Homo sapiens: one gene and its partners. The protein of the gene in region 2 purifies or fractionates together with the protein of the main gene of each other region. This does not show direct contact. Each region holds a gene or a part of one and is shown on either strand. Other genes may lie near its edges.

Region 1 (5,403 bases), on a different chromosome or scaffold from region 2:
AGAACAGTTCCTGGCACACTACTGTGTGCAATGTGTTCCCCTCTAATGAAGACTCCAAATCTATTAATTATTCAAATCTCTCCCTCCAATTCAGATCTTTATATCCAAATGCCTAATAGCTCCATCCAACAGGAATCTCAAATTCAACCAGCTCAAATTGAACTTCCCCTCTTCCCCCTGAAATCTGTACCTTTCCTATCTTGGCAAATGTGCTTACACAGTCTTCCATATTGGAAATCTCATGGGCTCTTATCTCTTATTTCCAACTGGTCGCCAAGTGCTACTGTTAATTCTACTTCTTACATGTCACACAGACCTGCCTTGGTGGGTCTGACCTTAGCCTGTTGTAGGTACATGTCCACCTATATGCTCCCAGAGTATGCTGTGCATCCCCCAAATCAGAACACATACTGTACCATACTATTAACTGCTCACCTCGTCTCTAGACTAAGGGCTCCTTGAGAGCAGAGACTTTCTCGTCCTTCTATTCACAGTACACAGCATCGTTTCTGGTACAATAAAGGTTCAATATATGTCAGCTGGAATGCACTGCTCCATTAACAGTTACTACGGAATTATAAATAATTTCAGCTTTTTCTCTCTAAAATACCTCCCACAGATGTCTAACTTCCAATAAATTGTTAATGCTCTGCGATCTGTTCTTGACTCTCGATGTATAGCCTTTATATTTGTTTTCCTAAAGAATCATTGCTTTTATGCTTCATGATATGGTTTGGATGCTCTGTCCCCTCCAAATCTCATGTTGAAGTGTGACCTCCAATGTTGGAGTGGGCCTAGAGGGAGGTATTTGAGTCAGGAAGGTGGACACTTCATGAATGGCCTGGTGCTGCCCTCGTGGTAACAAGTTCTCCCTTTACGGGTTCACGCTAGATCTGGTTATTTAAAAGAGCGTGGCACCTCCCCCACCTCTCACCTGTTCCCTCTTGCCATGTGACATGCTGGCTCCCCCTCACCTTCCATCATGTCTGTAAGCTTCCTGAGGCCCTTACCAGAAGCAGATGCCAACACTATGCTTTGTGTACAGCCTGCAGTACTGTGAGTCAAATAAACTTCTTTACTTTATAAATTACCCAGTCTCAGGTACTTCTTTATAGCAATGCAAAACTGACTAACATAGTTCACCATTTGTATGCAGTTATTTCCTGAATCCATCTCCTTATTATAGTTCTCCTGGCCTTGAGAATTCCCAATTGAAAGCATCAGTCACTTGACACTTTATAAGGCAAAATATCATCAAATAACCTTTCCTGGAGTTACCTCTTTTAAAAATCCTTTAAGACATACATTTTATTTTAAATGCTATCACTTCCTCATGTTTCACTCACTGTCTTTTCTGCACACTTGGAATAACCATATTACCTTTGGTGGGACTGTTACATTTGGATGCACAAGCTGTGTGGGAGGCCATTCTCAAAGGCCAGGCTGTGAATGGTGGCTCTTGGAGCTAAGAAAGACAGTAGACCTATTCTTTCATAAAATCTCTCTTGGTACCCAGAAATACAACCAGTTCATAATTTAACATCTTGATTTTTGAATTCCAATAAATAAGAATGTTAGGGTAGGATCTTTATATTATTTTTGATTCCACAAAGAATATATTAACTAATATATTAGCTCAAGAAATAATTCACAGTAATCTGAAAAGGTGAAAAACTTACTTCAGGTGGTTTTCTACCTAGAAGAATATAAGTAGCCATAACTTCATCATACTTCTGATTTATTAAGGCATCATTTATTTCATCTCGTGCAAAGCCCATGGTGACCATAATGTCTAGAAATTTAAAAAAGAGAAATTTTCTGAAAATGGTTTTATTTTCGTAAACAAATCAACAAAAATGGGCAAGTTTGCCATCTTTGAATATGAAAACTTAGTCATGAAAATTTAAAGTGTAGTTTTAAAAACTTCTGGACTATTAACCTACGGATACCATATGTTCACAGATATTGTACAATGATAATTTTACATGCAGAAATTACCTACATCATGGTTAATATATTAATGGGCCCACTTAATTTCTCATTGCCTAATACATTCCTGAGCTAACTTTCTTTGTCCAGTCTAAGACCATGTCAGTCTTTGTTACACACAAAATTCTCTGTCTTTCTCTCAATTCGTCCTCAGCTACTAGTGAAGTGGTTTCTTTCATCTCTTAAAATTTTCTGCTTTCTGATTTGCAGTAGGTTGACTCTTCTTTGGGAGATTTGAATTTCCATGGTTTTTCTGATCAGGTTCCTAACACCCTAAAATGCTCTCCCCTGCCACTCTGCCCTCAAGCCAGATAGGAACACAGTTGAGATGACTCAGCTGAGACTAAATGATGGCTTTGGGAAGGGATTGTGAAATGAAGAGAACAAGTTAGAAGGAGAGCTCTGGTTGGGTATGGGCAGTAGCAGGACGAGTGAGGAGGGAGAATAAACATTGCTAAGACAGTGGAAAAAGAAAGGGAGAGCCAAAGTGTTCAACTCTTAATTCGGTGCCTCTATGTCTTTGGTTAAAATACATGCTATGTTCGCTGATGCTTATCAGTCTGATCAGTGCTGATAGTTACATCAGCCATTCCTCCTGCTGGGCATCACTGAAAGGAAAGAATTCGATTTATTTACATTAGGTTTTATATCACTGTTGTCAAACATTGAATTAGACCATAATATATATGGGAACAAATTAGGGAACTTGAAATGTATAATTTTCAGCATATTATCATTAAAATGACAATGCAAGTATTTTTCAAATAAAAATTGCTTCCTATTTATACTCTTAAACACTATTTTGGCACACTAAAGGACTCTTACTTGTTGCCTAGGGACAGCACTTCTTACCATGTTTAAATACTTACCTATTCTTTTTGTGTCATTGAAATCCGGATCAGGCTCAGTATATGGCTTTAGTTCTTCCTCTTCATGACCAACATTCATCCATCGATCTTTCATTATTTGCTAGGAAATAAACTCTACATTATGTGTGGTCAATCAGAACATTCAGCCACTTATTATAGCTCTATTTTAGCAAATGTAAAATTACTAGTTCACTCAAGAAGTTTCATGTGACATTTCTAGTTTGATTAGTGGGCCAAAAAGAGGTGTAAGACTTTGGGACACACACAACAACTATGACTATCTCCCTACACACTCACCAAATGCATTGATTCAAAATAGCATGCCTCTCTTATTCCTTCAAAGGGAATATTTTCAAATTTGGATATTTTAACATAAGAATTTACTTCTTATAAAACAGATTTTAACTTCTGTTTCAGATTTTTACATTTAAGATTAATACAGAGATTATAATTTTTTCCTGTTTTATGCCAAATATATGCCTTATTTTAAAATCATCATTTACTAAAATATTAGTAAAGAAGAGGTCATGGGGAATGAAAATCAGGGTTGGCAGTAAAGCTATCAATAAAGATAGCTAAGATAATGTGGGAAGGGAAGGCAGTCAAAATTTAAGTCTAGAGTTAGGAATTAGGTAAGAATCAAGCTGGGGTTGATGTGAATTACCAGAGTCAGATTAAGCTAAGGCTGTGAAATAACAGACAGTCCTGGGCTGTTAAAAGGCAACCTTGTGGGGGCCAACTAGAGAATGGGAAAAATATTTGCAAAACATATACTGGATGAGGAGTAAATATTCAGAATATGTAAAGAATGCCTGCAACTCAATAACATCAAAACAAATAACCTGAATAAAAAATGGGCAAAGTAATTAACAGATATTTCTCCAAAAAAGATACATAAGTGGCCAACAAGCATGCTTGCTGTGTGAAAAGATGCTCAACATCACTAGTCATCAGGGAACTCAAAACCATAGTGAGCTATCACCTTATACTCATTAGGATGGCCACTATCAAAAAAACAAGAAACAAGTGTTGGTGAGCATGTGGAGAAACTGAAACCCCTGTGAACTGCTGGCAGGAATCTAAAATGGTGCAGCTGCTATGGAAAATAGTACAGAGGTTCCTCAAAAAATTAAAAATAGAACTACCATATGATCCAGTAATCCCACTTCTGGGTATTTATCCAAAAAAACTGAAAGCAGAATATCAAAGAGATATTCAGAAACTTATATTCACTGCAGCATTAGTCACAAAAGCCAGGATGTGGAAGGAACCTAAATGTCCATTGACAAATGAATTGATAAAGAAAATGTGGTACATAAATACAAATAAATATTATTCAGCCTTAAAAAAAATCCTGTTATATGTTACAACATGGATGAACCTTGAGGACATTATGCTAAGTGAAATAAGCCAATCACAGAAGACAAATACTGCATGATTCTACTTATACAGATTATCTAAAGTAGTTAAACTCATAGGAACATAAAGTATAATAGAATGGTGATTGCTGGGGCTGATGAGGGGGAAATGGTGATTTGTTCAATGAGTACAGAGTTTTAGTCACACAAGATGAATGGTGATTGCTGGGGCTGATGAGGGAGAAATGGGGATTTGTTCAATGAGTACAGAGTTTTAGTCACACAAGATGAAAAAGTTCTGGAGATCTGTTGTACAACAATGTACACATAGTTAACGACACTGTGATACACACTTAGAAGTTGTTGAGGGTAAATATATGTTACGTGTTTTTTACCACCACCACCACCAAAAAAAAAAAAAAAAGGCAATCTTGTAGAGAATTTACTATACTCATGGTCAGGCAATGGAAAACTGGAAGAAACTTATTTGAATAATTCTGTATTAATTTAGAAAGATTGTTCACTTTTTATTACTACAGAATTTTAGGTTTTCATTTTAGGTGCTGATATATTAATTGCTTTTTCCAGGTCCTGTAAAGTACATTCTCCATCTTTAAACTTTACTTGCCAATATTCCACTAATTAGAAAAATAACTTCCCATATATATATCTTTTGAAGGCTAATTTCTTGACTGCCCAGGTACCTTCCCCTCATTTATTAATATCTACCTAAAGCTAATCACCAGAAAATAAGAAATCCAGGGAAGATCTCTAACAACTGGAATCTCTTAAGAATACTGCTGTGCTGGATTGGAGGCTTTTCCAGCAGTCATCATCACATGATTTTTTTTTTTTTTTTTAAAGACAGGGTCTCACTATGTTGCCCAGGCTTGAACTCTTGGGTTCAAGTTATCTGCTTGCCTCGGCTTCCCAAAGTGCTGGGATTATAGGCATGAGCCACCATGCCCAGCCACATGATACATTTTTAAATTAAACTTTCTAGAGAATTCATATTTTCTTGGAAGGCTAGGGATTGAGACTCAGGAATCCTTAGCCTACAGAGGATGCTGTACAAAAGTTGTGGGGTGGGTGCGATTCTCCAGGAAGAATGAATAGTGTAAGAATGAATAGAAGAGGGCTCAGATTACAGCCTCAAGGAACACTAGTATTTAAAGGTTAGAAAGAAA
Region 2 (5,403 bases):
GTAATAATTTGCCAAACTTATAAAAAAAATCTTTTTCATGAATAATATTGTACCAGTTCCAAATATTTTTATTCATCAGCTACCAAAAATATATATTTTAGCAATTTCTAAAGAGCAGATTTATCTGAATTTCAAATACGTAACATAAAGATAAATTTCACCTCAGTTGAATTTCTCTATGACCTTCATTAAGTAAACTTTTAACAAGGAATACATCTGCTTAAAGGGAGTATACCGGGACCACAGAATCCCTGTGTACTTTCTTAATTAGGTGTTTTTTAACAACTCCTCTTAACACGAGCCAAAGACCTAAAAAATCTCTAAGGAGTCATTCAAAAATACATGCAGAAGATTCAAAACACAATCATGTAGAAAAAGTCCTAACATGAACTCTGGCTTTTCTGTTGATTATATGACATTAAACTCCATTGTGAATCTTACAAAATTATTTTTCTTCATAAAATAAATCAAATTTGGCTGGATGTAGATGTTGGAAATGCAAAACTATTAAGTTACATATAAGGATTAGAGGTACCCATCATGAAGAGAGAGCCTTGGGTCAATGGAAAGTTTTAAATGTAAAACTCAATAGCCAGAGTCTTTTGTTTTAATATTTAAATACTAGAAGATACATTTCATATCATTCTTACATATTACAAACATTCACCCATTCTTACCCAGGAACAATCATTTTGTATTTATTGTCCTAAGAGGATTTTGTTTTTGTTAAGCTGATAAACACTTCTTCCCCATATCTTTGAAATTAAAAAAGAGTAAATATCTTATGCAAGCTTTCTATTCAGTGTTTTATAGTATCAGTGTAACTGATTATTGAATTCACCAGTTTTAAGCTGAATTGTCATTTTGTCTATTTAATTACTACATAAAATACCATAATTTGGGAAATTGGATGAGGAAGCTTATCTCTATCAAATATAAAAAGGAAAAATAAGACTTTTTTCCTCCTGGATTGACTGTTGCTTTAATGAGATAGTTTGTATTTTACTGAGAAAGAATGGAGAAAGTAAGCAAGTCAAATTAAAAGGAAGTCTATCTCAATGTCAGCTGTCAATCCAGGAGACTCCCAGAGCAATCTTTCAACTTTCAGGCAGATTTATGACTGCAGTTTAAAACTAGCAGTGCCTGAGTGGAAATTTATAATTATTCTAATCAAATTATTGCTGAGCTACAAATCATAATTAGCCAGCTTAATTGGAAGATAAATTAAATGTTTATTTTTATTCCACTTTTGTCAGATGCAGAAGTTGTAACCTGTCTTTAGTAATTATGTGAGAAAATGTTATTTTAAAATGTCAAATTTTGTTTTGTTTCTGACGCTTTAGGTATATAGAAGGTACACAGAATCAGAAAAGATTATAAAAGAAAGCAAGATTTTTGTTAGTGACGTCCTGTTTCCTCTGAAGAGTAATAGTTGGAATCAAAAGAGTCAACGCAATGAACTGTTATTTACTGCTGCGTTTTATGTTGGGAATTCCTCTCCTATGGCCTTGTCTTGGAGCAACAGAAAACTCTCAAACAAAGAAAGTCAAGCAGCCAGTGCGATCTCATTTGAGAGTGAAGCGTGGCTGGGTGTGGAACCAATTTTTTGTACCAGAGGAAATGAATACGACTAGTCATCACATCGGCCAGGTACTTATTTATTTAAAATGTTACAGTAAATAGCACAACAATGTAAATAAATATGTTGGAGAAGTTTGGAGATTTGATGAGTTCCACATTTTTACAGTGAAGCCATTGAAAAGCTTCAAACAGCAGCATCAATAATTGTTTCAGATTTGCAAGCACCTAAAACATCCACTAAAATCTTGAAGAGGGATAGCTCTGGTTTTTAAATTTCACTTCAGTATCCCGTATGAAAATGCAGCCCTCATTTTCAACATCTGGAAACTTTATTGCGTTATTTTTGGTAATGAATCTAAGCAGTCACAGTGAGACAAATATCATTTACCAACAGTATTTAGCCCGATTTTCTGTTACGCTAAGTAGCTGTTGATTTACCCCTCGTTCATTTTTAATGAAGCAGGTTAATACCATATTCTCCTACAGTTAAGTAGCTTCAGGAGCCTACACACTTAAATTGATTAGTAAAGTTAAAGTAAAAGGAATAATTATGTTCACTTTCTTAAAAGAATATATTTTAAGAACAATTCCTTAATGAGACAAAGCATCTCCTATTTATGTTTTTGGCTTGTATTTTATTATTTGGTTTTCTTTAAACAAAGGTGATTACAATATCATGTCCTTTTCCATAAGGCTTTTTCTCTAGATAAATGAACTGAAATAAGTTTAACCGCTAATTAACTGGCACTAAAATTTAATTGGGCCCAAAGGGTGAAGCACTCAAAATTTATTAACTCTCATTTTCTAGCCCTTTCAGGAGAGCTGCAGTGTTAGCATGGTATCTGGATTCCATAGAACTTCACCTGTGTTATCAGCCAAATGTATATGAGTACATTCAACCAAAGCCTTAGATTAGGATTTTAGGCAAGTATTTCCAAACGTGCAGGGAGGAGGGTGTATTGTGAACACACACACACACGCATACACACACACACACATTACAAGAAATATTTCTCAACCCCTTTTATTTTCGACTCAGACTACAGGTAAATAATACGCACAGTTGGCACTAAGAAGGTCCACAGTTAGGTGCCGACTCAGTAACTGAGTCTCTAGCTACCTTTACAGTGGACTGCACAGAACACCATATACTCTCCCATCACTGAATGGGGTGACAGGCTAAAATCAGCTATTGGCTTTTAGTAAATAAGGTGTTATAGGGAAGTGCATCAGTGTAATTGGAACACAGGCCACCTCTGGGGCTGTCACATTTTCTAGTTTGTTTGTTTCTACTCCCCACATGAATCTCTGTTTACCTCCTTTCTCACAGTGATTGGTTTTGCCTATTTTTTCATTTCAGAGACATATTTATGAAACTACTCTGAAAAATGTTTTTCTGCTACACAAACTCATCAGGCTTAAAAAACAAGTGAATCACTGATTTCAAAAAGAACAATAATGAATGTTTAGGTGCTTGTCAAAAGAGTTAGTAAATATACAATTTAGCTGCTGCGTTCAAGATAACTCTCTTTGATCCATTTGTTTGAAAAATGATTAAGATTGGGAAGTACAATTAAGTGAAAATTTGAAGTGATATTTGTTTAGCAAATTGATAGTAGCAGCCTAATTAGGAAAATATTTTTTGAATAAAAATATAGAAAATTGTATAATACTACAGGCCATTTGATTGAAATGTGTTTAACATATGCATTTTATGACATTAAAAGGCTGGTGTTCAAGTAAGCTTTTTCGTTTTTGTTTCTGTCTTCCCTTAAATCTGGGTCTTAAAAATGTCAAGCTTACTTGTCTTTGAAAATTACACTGCACATATACTTGCAATATATTTACTTATTACTAAACTTAATTTATCTTCATTATAATATCAAATAAATTATCAAATCATATTGAAATGATATAATTTAAAAATATGAACCATACATTGCTCACTTGATATATTGATTTGATTGTATAATTTGTTCCTCAATTTCTTACATCATCGCATGAAGAATTTCTTTTAGGAATAATTAAGAACTATCAAAAGAAGTATTACCAGAAAGACAATCTGGATGTTATTTTTCATTACATAGCATTGATATTCGGCATGTTATTAAAATGCAAAATTAGTTACTAGTACCTTCAGATTTTCTCCACAACCGCAAAGAAAGTGTATTAATTTATCCAGTATAAGAAATTATAACTTAAGCCATCAGAAAAATCATGAATTTGTTTACAACTGATTTCATGATTATCTTTGTAAATTTTCAGAGGAACTCTTACTGTGAATAAGAGCATTTTCATAAATGGTGAATCAAGAAAATGTGGATTCACAATGATTAGGGAACCATGACATTCTTCTCTTACATACAAATAATTCTGATATGAAAAGCTATGTGATCATTTTAACTATATCAGAATTAGACGGGTTTTTTTACAGATAAATTAAAAATTCTAAATAATACCTCAACAGTATGAATGATGAACTAATTTACTTTGCTTTTTGAAAATATGAAAATGAGTGCACAGGCTGAAAGTGTGTATTTGAGAATTAGGTAGAATATATTGAGAAGAAAGTTTTATACTTTATGGCTAAAACCCAAGGGCTAAAGAAGATGTAACTGAGTTGTTGTCAGTGGACAGTCTGAAATTTGACAGCCTCATAGAAGATTTGATAGCCTCGTGGTGTAAATTCTATATCTACACAAAGACCATATGACTCTGAAAAAAGTTTGTAAAACAAAATCTCACTTTTCTTCTCTATAGAAAAATTGATCATATCAATAATATGTATTTCATAATATTGATATGAGAATTACTTGAGAACACTAATATAAAGCAATTTATAGATTTTATGACATGTAATAAATACCTAATGAACAGTCAAGATTATCATTATCTTTATGAACCCTAATTTTCATCCTAATATTTTCTTGTTTCCATGTATATTCATGCAAGAGATAGAACATCAGTGTTTAAATGTCACTAAATTGTCTTTCTATCTATCTCAAGGACCCAATCTAGTATAAATATTTGAGAGTATAGTTTTAGTGACTGAGAATTTAATTATAAATAAAAACTGAACCAACTATGTTGTGCATAACTTACAAAAGAAGCTTTATTATCCAATTATTTTTGTTTCTGTTTAGAATAATGAAATGTGTATAGTTCTTTACACTAAATATTCACTCTTCCTTCTCCCTGGTGATAGATTTTAATCTTGATATTAATATTTTGCCTCATTTAATGTAATGTGGAAATAATATAAAATCATTAACTTGGGGAATAATTAACATACATAAAAAGAAAATCTTGATTTTGATTTGTCCATTTCAGATGTTTGGAAACTAAATGATCCCTCTTTCCATTTGCAGCTAAGATCTGATTTAGACAATGGAAACAATTCTTTCCAGTACAAGCTTTTGGGAGCTGGAGCTGGAAGTACTTTTATCATTGATGAAAGAACAGGTGACATATATGCCATACAGAAGCTTGATAGAGAGGAGCGATCCCTCTACATCTTAAGAGCCCAGGTAATAGACATCGCTACTGGAAGGGCTGTGGAACCTGAGTCTGAGTTTGTCATCAAAGTTTCGGATATCAATGACAATGAACCAAAATTCCTAGATGAACCTTATGAGGCCATTGTACCAGAGATGTCTCCAGAAGGTATTGCATATTAATTTACATCAAAGATATATTAACAATGAAGCAGGTTTAAAATTTGAAGGATATGTTTTGGAAGTAGATGATTTAAGGGTCTATACTAGAACTTCCTTCTACAAATATGTTTAAGTAAAATATTTGAAAAATTAGACTATGCATCAA
Region 3 (5,403 bases), on a different chromosome or scaffold from region 2:
ACTCAGGAGGTTGAGGCATGAGAATCGCTTGAACCCCGGAGGCAGAGGTTGCAGAGAGCCGTGATCAGGTCACTGCGCTCCAGCCTGGGAGACAGAGCGAGACTGTGTCTCAAAAAAAAAAAAAAAAAAAAAGAAAGAAAGAAAGAAATACCAGTATGGATTCATTCTGAAAACATTTCCTAGATCTGTCTACCAAAACGCCCCAGGAGCACGACAAACACCCTAGCACCCACAGCTTGACTTCTAAATGTCATTCCCCATTACAAGAAACCAGAGCAGCTTGGAGAAATGAATCAATCCAGTGTGGGGAAAGGACACCCATGGTGATCCCATGACATTCTGCTGTGCTGGAGGCGAGACTGACCGGGCCACGGGGAGGACCTGAGCTAGCAGGAAGGGGCTCTCACAATGTGAACGTCAGAAACAATAATTACTGTAAACAACTTTTAATATGCCGAATGAATAAAACTATGAATCTATCCATACAAAAATATAAAAATCAAAAGCTAAGGCAGCTGGGGCTGGGAAGCACTGCTTCAGGATTCCCAGCAGCTTTTTGTCCAGGAGGCCCTTCGCTAGGTAGGAGTCACCACTGTGCAGAAATGCGGTTATATTTATCACAGTCATGCTCAAAACAGAAAACTGCAAATAGCTTGCACACCTAACAAGAGAGAAGCAGCTACATGAAATGCTATATATCTGTGTAACTGGAATCCAGCACAGCTGGGATACTGAAATACGTGCATGCTTGCTGACAAGGAGACAGGGTTTATGACCCTCTGGCTGCTGAGTGAAAAGAGCAAGTTCCAGTGACAGCACATGGAGGGAGCCGTACTTTTGTTTTTAAAACAGCTATGCACATAAGTAAAAATTACGCCTACAAAGACTATTATATTCATATACATCAAAATGAACCTTTTAAAAGTGGAATCATGATTTTTTTCCTTGAGTTTGAAACCACAGAACAGCTTTCTCTGGGAGACATGTGATCCTGGGGCTACAGAATGGAGCAGCAGAGGAGTCTCCACTGCTCCTGCAGCCTAAAAGGCACAGCAGTGAGAGAATAGCAGTGTCACCCAGCGGACACCACTGGGCCTGCTCGAGCTGACCCTTTCTGGCTTGGGGCCCCAGGAGAGAACAGGACTGATAATGCATCTCTCCCAAGCCCCCATCTCATCCCAACACCTGGGGCACGAGGGGCTGGGAAAGGTGTCCTTACCGGCTGCATGGTACCCCCCGCAATGACCACTGCCCGGCATTCCTTCACCACTTGGGCAAAGTGCACAGCTGGATTCAGGAGCAAAAACTTCAGGGTGCTCTGACTGAGGCTGCCTGGAAAAACAGATCGGTGGGAGGTGAGTGCAAGCCCAACAGACACTTCTGTCGTCCCAGCAAAGGGGGTCCCCCAGGTGAGTCCAGGTCTGAGGCACAAGTGCTAGTGCTTTCTCTTTAAATTAAACACCATTTAATCTCTAGGACAACCAGCCCACAGAGGTGGACCACACTGTCCTCTCCATCCTTTTTTTTTTTTTTTTTTGAGATGGAGTCTCGATCTGTTGCCCAGGCTGGAGTGCAGTGGCTCAATCTCGGCTCCCTGCAACCTCCGCCTCCTGGGTTCAAGCAATTTTCCTGCCTCAGCCTCCCGAGTAGCTGGGACTACAGGCACCCACCACCACACCCTGCTAATTTTTTGTATTTTTAGTAGAGACGGGGTTTCACTGTGTTAGCCAGGATGGTCTCGATCTCCTGAACTCACGATCCGCCCCCCCTCAGCCTCCCAAAGTGCTGGGATTATAGGCGTGAGCCACCGCGCCCGGCCTATCCTCTCCATTTTCATATGAAGAAACTGAAGTTGAGAAAGAAAATAGTCCAAATCACAAGGCTCATAGATGACAAAATCATGACCCAAACCAAAGCCCACCTACCCCACAGTAGAAGTTTCCCTAGGACCCCTGCCCTAGAGGACCCCCATCCCAGCTCCTCGATCTCCTCCCGTCCACCTCCACTGCTTACCCTGGTCACGGGACCCCCATCCCAGCCCTTCGATCTCCTCCCATCCACCTCCACTGCTTGCCCAGGTCACAGCAGGCCAGTGCCCACTGCACTGCTTCCTCCTAACCCAGGAAGTTCCCAGGATGGAAGGAAAGAATCCTTTCACGCTGCGGCTCCCGGGCTCAGCTTGGCTCCTTCCTGGGAACTGAACCTGGCCAAGAACCACCTGATTACCTTGGCGGCTCAGGATGACCCTGCCGTCCTGGTTGGCCGTAGTGAGAGCTGCCAGGAAGCCTTGGATGTGCATCAGTGGAGAAGCTGGTCGCAGGGTGCTGGCCTGACTCTCGTCTGCAGGGGCTGCAAGAGCTGCACAGAGCAGAACGGGGAGGAGGCCTCCCTCTGGTCAGGTCCACACATGAGGAACAGAAGTCCTTGCCCATGCGTGCAGCCGGCTCTGCCTGCCCACCCTCCTGCCTCACCTTCAGTCGTCCTGGGCTGCAGGCTCTGCAGGAATTGCTGAAACCCAGCCAGTTTGGGCTGCTCCCGGGATGAGAACACTGCTCCGTACCGTTCAGTGAATCCAAAGAGCTGGGTGGGATGAGAGAGAGCAGTGGAGAGGAACGAGGTACAGCCATGAGAGAGAGGCTGGGTGGATCGGAGGCTCTGCCAGGCCCAAGACACCTGCAGCACACATCCCACCACCCCAGCAAGGCCCACTGCACCAAGGAGAGTGGAGACGAAGGGGACTCTGGAGTTCCCTGAGGGCAGGGGAGGAAAGCATGGCAAGGGCAGGGGGTTGGGGCACAGCTGGGTCTTGTTCAGGACCACAAGATGGGAGCAGTTACCTTTCTGCTGATCATGCTCTTCTCACAGTATCGCTGCACCTGCAAAAACCAAGCCCAGCTGTAGGCATGAGTGCAAACTGAGCAAGCTATAATCTTAAAAACAAAACAAAAAACACCACTTCTACCACCCAGGCAGCACAACGCAGTGCTACCTTCTGAGGCACCTGGAGCCTCCTTGCCACCAACCTTGTCATCTCCTCTCCGAGGCCACCCCCTCCTCTACTGCCCCTGCCCACAACGCAGTGTCCTCCTCAGGGTGGAGACCCTCTTTCCAAATGTCTCTCTCAAGTCTAAGAGTGCTCAGTAAAATCCAGTTCCCCTTGGCTTTCCTTCCAGGTGACAAAGAGTTAAAAAAAAAAAAGGAACTTCTATGAGCAAAGCCACAGAGGAGATGATGGCTGGGACCTGCTCAGGGGCTGGGGCAGTGCCACTCAGTCGGTGCATCCAATGTGTGTGGTTTGGTGCCAGATCTTAGCTTGGGATGCAGAGATGAGGAGTTTGGAGCCTTTAAACCGGTTTCTAAAAAGAGCGACGTCCTTCGATGAGGATTCCCTCAATGGTGAGTGATGAGACCCGAGACCCATGGGAAGAAGAGGGGAGAAGGAAAGCAAGGAGGGCAAAGGGAAGGCGAGAGAAGGAGTGCCTGCACCCATGTCCCAGCTGTGGGAGAAGCGCAGGGACGGCAGGACTGTCTCAGGCTGTCAGGCCTGGCGGCTGTCACAGGCATGTGGGAGACAAGGGGAGAAAGGCATCAAGGATGACCTGGATCCAGCCTGTCTGGCAGGGATGGCGGCAGTGACAGTGACCCAAATGTGTAATTCAGGGGAAAAGCTGGTTTTAAGAAAAAAAAGGCAGGCAGGATGGGAAGAATGTGGGGCCCCAAGTCAGTGCAGCCAGGTTTGGACGCTGTCTCTGCCACTTGCTATTGGCTCACTTGTGGGAAGCCTGTGCTCGCCACCCTCCTGAAGTCACCTCCACGGGCCTGTTTGCTTTCCTTGCTGGGGCAAAAGGATATCCTAGCTCAGAGCACAGCACATGGCATGCCGCCTACAACAGAGGCAGAACCCTGTACCCGGGGGCAGTCACTGTTGCTGATTTGAGTTACGAGCTTGGGGTTCAGGCGGCAGTGGCCGTGTTTCATCTGGGGAGCGCTGGGTACACAGACCTGGAGTGAGCAGAGGTCTGAGGCTGCAACCAGACCCAAGGCCCAAGTGGGAAGACGTGACAGGGGTTGCACAGAACAAATCAACGTCCTATTCCTGTCCATAAGCCTGAGGGAGACTGTGCCAGAAGACGGAGTGAGAGAGCAAGGACCTGGAGTCTCTATCTGTTCTATGGGGCACCAAGAAAGGTCCCTTTCTCACCCATCCCTCATCCCTGTGGCCTTCACTCTAAAAGAAGATGACTTTTGTCTCACAGGCATGTTGCGTTAAGGGTTAAGTAATTACACATCTGTTTTGCTTTTTCTTCCTTCTACAGTCTTAACATAGTACTTTACCCACAGGTGGTGACAGGAAGGAAATTGGATGTGGAATGTGGAAAGGTGGAAACCTCTACCTTGAACAGGTTGATGTTGTCGATCTGGCTCTGGAAGAGAAAGTCGTTGATGGTCTTCAGCTCCGTCCCTGAGAACAAACACATGAAGGGCCTTGGGAGCTTCACCCTAAGCCTCAGGTTTCAGTCCCAGGGTTAAGCTCGGAAGTGGCTCAGATCAGCTCTGGGCCCTCTGAGGGCAACTCTCTTACCTGTCTGTGACAGACTCTGTGTATTGGGATTTTGCTTAATGTTCCCTAAAAAAGAGAATGGAAATAGGTCACAATGCTGGTTCTCAGGACCCCCAACCCTTCCCTATCTTCTCTCCCTCCACACTGCACATCAAGTAAGAAGAGCATCTGTATTTAAATGGCTTTGTTTTGCTTTTCACTGTTTATAGCATGCAACGGACCCACTGAGAGGGCAGGTGGGTCCAGGAGCCTCCCATGTCTGACTCACGTGCTTGCACGTGGAACCCAAAGCCCTGTAAGTTCATGTTTTTCACCCCTTCTCCAGGAGGCCGGGACACAGCAGCCAGACCAAGGTATGCAGGGCACCGGAGCACAGAGGAGCTGCCCAGGCCACTGGTGAGCCTGAGGCAAAGCAGAGCTGGTGGCTCAGAGCAGCAACACGAGACCAGCTCCCGCCAGGAGCTCCCACAGGCTTTCTGCAGCTTCCACTTCCACAGACGCCTTCCAAGGGGGTGCCCCATCATAAAAGAAGGGGACGTGACAGGGTCATGCAAAGAGGCGTGGGAGCTGGAGTCAGAAGATCCCAGGCTCCCGTGCTGGGAGCAGCCCTTGCTCCGAGCTCTAGTTTATGCGTCTATCAACAAGGATTCAAATACCAGCACTGCGTTCTCACAGGGCACACAAAACCGCATATGCAAGTGCTTCGAACAACCCACAGAACTATGCCTATCACGGAAACACCGTGTGTCTATGTGATGCTGTATCCTTAATATCCCCCCAGAGCAGGGCCTGAAATAAAAAGTCCTCAGAACATGGGCAAAGAACCCATGGGTCTAAATAAA
Region 4 (5,403 bases), on a different chromosome or scaffold from region 2:
ATTACCCGGGTGTGGTAGCTCGCCTGTAGTCCCAGCTACTTGGGTGACTAAGGTGAGAGGGATCACTTGAGCCCGGGAGGTTGAGGCTGCAGTAAGCCATGAGCACACCACTGCACTCCAGCCTGGGCAACAGAGCCAGGCCCTGTCTCAATAAAATAAAAAGAAAAGTTGTTCTCTGCCCCCAGCCCCATTTATATAGAAAAACAGAAGCTCCACCCCTCCTGTCCAAGGAAACCTGGAGCACAGAGGTGGGGTTACTTTAAGACTTAGGGCCGGGCTCAGTGGCCTCCCACTTTGGGAGGCTGAGGCAGGAGGATTGTTTGAGCCCAAGAGTTCAAGACCAGCCTGGACAACACGGTGAAACCTTGCCTCTACAAAAAATGCAAAAATTAGCCGGGCATGGTGGTGCATGCCTGTAGTCCCACCTATTCGGGAAGCTGAGGAGGGAGGATTGCTTGAGCCCAAGAAGTTGAGGCTGCAGCGAGCTGTAATCATGCCACTCCTCTCCAGCTTGGGTGACAGCGCAAAACCCTGTCCAAAAAAAAAAGGGGGGGCAAGTCCCAGTTTTGCCATTAAGCTTCTTGAGAGCCTAATGCAGGATGGCCTCTCCTTTCTCTCATCTCCTGCAGCGCTTAATATCAACAGCATGAGGGCTTGTCTGACTTCGCTGTGTAAGCTACTCGGAGAGCAGAGACCGTGTTAATGATCCCCGGGCTTCACTGACATTGTGTGGAAAGCACAGTACTTGCACATACTAGGCTTCCTTTTAATCTGACTGATTCCAAACGGCCCCTAACCTACAATGGTTTGACCTGTGATTTGATGTTGTGACTTTACAATGGTCTGAAAGCTGTAGGCATCAGCACATACCTTGACTTACGATGGCCTTGTCCAGATAAGGCCATCGTAAGTTGAAAATATCCTAAGTCAAAAATGATATTTTCAACTTACGATGGGTTTTTCAGGATATAGCCCCAGCCATCATAACTTGAGGAGCAGCTGGAGCTTGTTAGAGCCCAGTCAGTAAAACAAAAGGCCAGGAGCTGGGTGCCCTTAAATCTTGTACCTGGTGTGGACCTCACACACTCATCCAGAAAGTGGAAGGGCACTAGTGCCCTAGATCTGGCCTTGAGGTCCTCACACTCCTGATTAGGTTTTGTATAAATCACCTTATTAGAGACTGGACCCATAATATACATTGAAATGTTAACAGTCCTGCTCTCTGAGCAGTGAGAATAGGGGTGATTCTTTTTATTTTCTTCACTCTGCATTTCTAAATTTTCCAGATTTGAGATGAGGAAAAATCAGGTCAGTCCTTAATACTCAGAGGGAGGGGGATGACCTGGTTTTTGGTGGCAGAAGTGAGAATTCCTACTCTTTCATCTTAGATGGCAGTTACCTTACATAGATCACACACAAGATGCCTGTGTTTATGCCTTTCTCCCTCGTGAATTACTAGTTCTCATCATTATAGATCCATAGAATGTTAGAACTGGAAAGAAGGTCAGCTCCCCTGATGCTTATCCCCCTTCCTCAGACCATGGGTCTCTTGGAGACGGAAAGTCCTCTTCCGTTGGCCCCACAGCTGTTGTAACACTGCTTGCCTGTCATTTAGAGTGCCCATCATCATTCTCCTCTGCTGACAACCTCTGCCGCAAACTGGAGGACCTGCAACAGTTCCAGAAAAGGGAACCCGAGAATGAGGAGGAGGTGGACATCCTCAGCCTCTCCGAGCCAGTGAAGATAAACATCAAGAAGGAGCAGGAAGAGAAACAAGAGGAAGTCAAGTTCTACCTGCCACCAACCCCAGGGTCTGAATTTATTGGGGATGTCACACAGAAGGTAGGGGTTGTGGTGTTAATAGTTCATGCAGCAGACCAGCTCAGAGCTAGATGTTCAGACGTTCAGCTTCACAGACCCAGACCCAGGTGTTCAGCCTCACAGACACAGACTCAGACCCAGACTCTTCTGGTGCCGTAGATGCTTGACTTCCTTCTGCCTGGTTGACCCAGGTGTGCTCTCAGGGCTCCCACCGTCCCACATCAGAGCCCTTGGGCAGAAATGCTAATTACATGTGAAAACATTGCTTGTTGAACGCAGACGTGAAGCAAAGCTGGCTAGATAGAAATGGTTGATTACTCTTCATCTTGTTTTTCTCATCTGCCTCAGTAGAAGCACCTTTCCCTCATGAGGCACGTCGTACTCTTTCTGAGTTGCACGTCAGCGCGTAATCCTCCCCTGATGTGTTGATAGCTCCTGAGTGCCCCGCCTGTGGTGCAGATGGCGTGCACCTGCCTTACTATACAGGAGAGAGGTATTTATCCACCCTGCTGGAGCCTAACAGCTCTTCAGCATCTGCCAGTTGCTCAGGGCCCAAGGTGAAAGACAGTGTGCTTTCATTGGATGCCATGAAGAATGGGCAAGATGCAGTTTCCAAGTGCAAACAGGACGTTGGAGTCTGATTCCAGACCTTTCAAAGTGTTGATTGCGTATCAGAACCCAGGCAGATCCCAACCATGTTCTCCCACGAAGGAGATTTGAGAGATTTTAATAGGATTATAGTCATATTTTAAATATCAGCCAGAAATGTGGAAAAACAAGATAACATTCTTCTAGATGTTATATTCCGTGTTCCTTTCCCGTGAATTTTGCCCAATATGTTTGCAGAGTCCTCCTTCCAACCAGGCATCGCTTTGCATGTCAGGGAGGTATGCTTGTTTGGAGAGAGGCTGTTTCTAAAGCAGCGATACGAACAAACGGCTTTCTTCTGCTTTTCCAGATTGGGATCACCCTGCAGCCCGTGGCACTCCACAGGAACGTGTATGCGTCCGTGGTGGAGGACATGATCCTGAAGGTGGGTGCCTGCAGGGGCCGCCAGCCAGGAAGGATGGTTGCATCCCAGGCGGTTTGGAGTAAGGGGCAAGGACAGAAAAGGAACAAAGATAACAGGCTTTAAAATGTCTCGTCTTATTTGGGCTTAAGTTCTCTCTTTTTGTTTTTTTGTTTTTTTTCCTTCTGATTTTTAAATGGACTAAGTTATGTTTCCTCTGAGTCATGTGGTTTCAGGTGCCTCCTAAGACGTATTCTGGGGGTGGTGGTCAGTGTGCTCGTTGCTTTAGGAGGTGGCAGAGACAAAGCCTATGGTTTTCTGTACACGTCACAACAGCAAACAGCCCCAACTGTCCTGACCCTGGCAAGGGGACGAAAATGCCGCAGCCTCCTTCCCCAGCCTGATCCTAGCTCAGCAGTTCCTTTCCTCGTGGATCCTCTCCAAGAATAGGGATACCTCCGTAACAACTGCTTTCCTTAAATACAATGTCTAGGGCTGGGCGCGGTGGCTCATGCCTGTAATCTCAGCACTTTGGGAGGCCGAGGCGGGTGGATCATTTGCAATCAGGAGTTGGAGACCAGCCTGGCCAACATGGTGAAACCCCATCTCTACTAAAAATAAAAAATTAGCTGGGCTTGGTGGCGCTCACCTGGTAATCCCAGCTACTTGGGAGGCTGAGGCAGGAGAATCGCTTGAACCCGGGAGGCGGAGGTTGCACTGAGCCAAGATCGCGCCACTGCGCTCCAGCCTGGGCGCGAGAGTGAGACTCCATCTCAAAATAAATAAATAAATAGAATAATGTCTGATTAATGAAAATCACTCCAATTCATAATTTCTCAGAATCATGGCCTTTATCATTATGGTCTATTATTGAGGCCTTTAATTTTTTCTTAAGGACTTTTTAATCCCTAGTTGCAGTGGTTTCAAACATTTGGGGTAAGGGATGGGGTTAAATGTGTCCCTTCTTGCCAGCAAGCAGATGGCCATTTGAAGAATAACAGCATCTTCCATTGTAGGCTACAGAACAGCTGGTGAATGATATCCTGAGACAGGCTTTGGCAGTTGGATACCAGACAGCTTCTCACAACAGGTATTACTATCTCTGCAGTCTGTGGTGTGAGGCTTACACCTCTTTCCTAACAGTTGAATTGCCCATGAAGGTGTTTTATACTTACATCAATCCAGTAGGAGATGGAGTGAGTGCTTAGGACACTCTTAGAGCCAGATGAGCTCAAGGGTCTGCTTTGTCATTTTTAGAGAACCTCATGGTTGTGAAAGCTCACTCAGCTTTGCTCAGAGGTTTATATCCTCCTCATTACTTCACAGACACCTAGGACTCTGTTTTATTACAGGGTTGAATAAATATTAGCTTTGCAATTAAAGATAACAGTGTCCATTACATGTCAGACACGAGGGCCAAGCGTTGCATATATTACCTAATTTGTTTTTCATTGCAGAACTATTATTCTCTTTTTAAAAATCAGGAAACCGGGCTTTGAAAGGTAATTTTACCCAGCTTACCCAGCAAATACAGTGTAGACCTGGACTTCCGACTCAGGTCTCATTGGCTCTGAGGCCCCTGGGCTCGCCACTGCTCTTTGCTGACTCGTTGTCTTTGATTAAGACACTGAGTTTCAGTCTGTTCCTAGGCCCTGAAAGGATGGTAGATAGGCCACATCTGCTTTTCTTTCGGAGGAAACAAATATTATTTTATTGCATTATGCTAAAGGCTGTCACAGATTTATAAAATTGTAGCAAAGTGCCTGAGGACATGAAGGGCCTAAATCAGAGGAATAGTAGATGAAACTTCACAGGAATATATCAGACAACATAGGCGTCTTTAGAGAAAAGGAAGGGGAACCAAGAGTTCCGGTCCTGCTGCCCACTGTCCTGCTTGGACCCACAAGTGAGCCAGGGCCTCCTGTGGCCCCTGCTTACCTCTGTGCTCCCTGTCCTGGAGGGGTAGAGTGACTTAGGTGCTTTTGATGGAACGATTAACATCACGCCTGGCCTGGCGTGGCTCCGTCTCCCGTCTTTCTAGGAGATGGGAAATAAGGTCCCAGAGTTTTGTGGTGCTTTGACTCAGCTTTCGGTCTGCTGAGACTCACTCACAAATGTGTCATTCCGTTCTGCCATCCGCTTTGTTTTCTTTCTCTTTTCTCAGTTCTCAGAATCTTTTTTCCTAATTATTCAACCAACTTGTTGACATCCTTCTCATGCCTATGACAGGAAGGCAGTCCTCACCCCAGAGTGGCCCTAAGCTATGTCTGTGGCTCAGGAGCCCTCTCCACGGGGCCTCTGCCTGGGATGGTCCCTGTGATGAGTTAAGTGAATAAATGATGAGATATACGTGAGAGAATTTCACCTGGTAACACCCTTTGTTTTTTGGACCAGGATTCCCAAAGAAATTACAGTGAGTAATATTCACCAGGCCATTTGCAACATTCCTTTTCTGGACTTCCTCACAAACAAACACATGGGAATATTGAATGAGGACCAGTGAGCGGAGTGAGGTGCCCTGGAGAAGCAGGCTTTGAAGGCACAGCGAAGCTGTAACTGAGGACCCTGCTGCT

What was found.
Region 1: the proteins of CDH19 (region 2) and MARK1 purify together in Homo sapiens (affinity purification with mass spectrometry; 2 studies listed by BioGRID and IntAct, with this or other methods). This does not show direct contact.
Region 3: the proteins of CDH19 (region 2) and DDX11 purify together in Homo sapiens (affinity purification with mass spectrometry; 2 studies listed by BioGRID and IntAct, with this or other methods). This does not show direct contact.
Region 4: the proteins of CDH19 (region 2) and YEATS2 purify together in Homo sapiens (affinity purification with mass spectrometry; 2 studies listed by BioGRID and IntAct, with this or other methods). This does not show direct contact.

Annotation. Positions count from the first base shown.
Region 1 is NC_000001.11:220,628,590-220,633,992, reverse strand, and holds part of MARK1 (serine/threonine-protein kinase MARK1), read right to left. Parts: intron 2,959-5,403; coding exon 2,859-2,958; intron 1,793-2,858; coding exon 1,680-1,792; intron 1-1,679. UniProt on the Homo sapiens protein: Serine/threonine-protein kinase. Involved in cell polarity and microtubule dynamics regulation. Phosphorylates DCX, MAP2 and MAP4. Phosphorylates the microtubule-associated protein MAPT/TAU.
Region 2 is NC_000018.10:66,568,257-66,573,659, reverse strand, and holds part of CDH19 (cadherin-19 isoform 1 preproprotein), read left to right. Parts: intron 1-1,343; 5' UTR 1,344-1,455; coding exon 1,456-1,650; intron 1,651-4,949; coding exon 4,950-5,244; intron 5,245-5,403. UniProt on the Homo sapiens protein: Cadherins are calcium-dependent cell adhesion proteins. They preferentially interact with themselves in a homophilic manner in connecting cells; cadherins may thus contribute to the sorting of heterogeneous cell types.
Region 3 is NC_000012.12:31,093,814-31,099,216, reverse strand, and holds part of DDX11 (ATP-dependent DNA helicase DDX11), read right to left. Parts: intron 4,628-5,403; coding exon 4,583-4,627; intron 4,463-4,582; coding exon 4,395-4,462; intron 2,877-4,394; coding exon 2,838-2,876; intron 2,581-2,837; coding exon 2,472-2,580; intron 2,359-2,471; coding exon 2,227-2,358; intron 1,333-2,226; coding exon 1,220-1,332; intron 1,041-1,219; coding exon of another isoform or gene 916-1,040; intron 1-915. UniProt on the Homo sapiens protein: DNA-dependent ATPase and ATP-dependent DNA helicase that participates in various functions in genomic stability, including DNA replication, DNA repair and heterochromatin organization as well as in ribosomal RNA synthesis.
Region 4 is NC_000003.12:183,805,251-183,810,653, forward strand, and holds part of YEATS2 (YEATS domain-containing protein 2), read left to right. Parts: intron 1-1,615; coding exon 1,616-1,842; exon of another isoform or gene 1,843-2,779; coding exon 2,780-2,854; exon of another isoform or gene 2,855-2,862; intron 2,863-3,479; exon of another isoform or gene 3,480-3,602; intron 3,603-3,846; coding exon 3,847-3,920; intron 3,921-4,768; exon of another isoform or gene 4,769-5,201; intron 5,202-5,224; coding exon 5,225-5,333; 3' UTR 5,334-5,403. UniProt on the Homo sapiens protein: Chromatin reader component of the ATAC complex, a complex with histone acetyltransferase activity on histones H3 and H4. YEATS2 specifically recognizes and binds histone H3 crotonylated at 'Lys-27' (H3K27cr).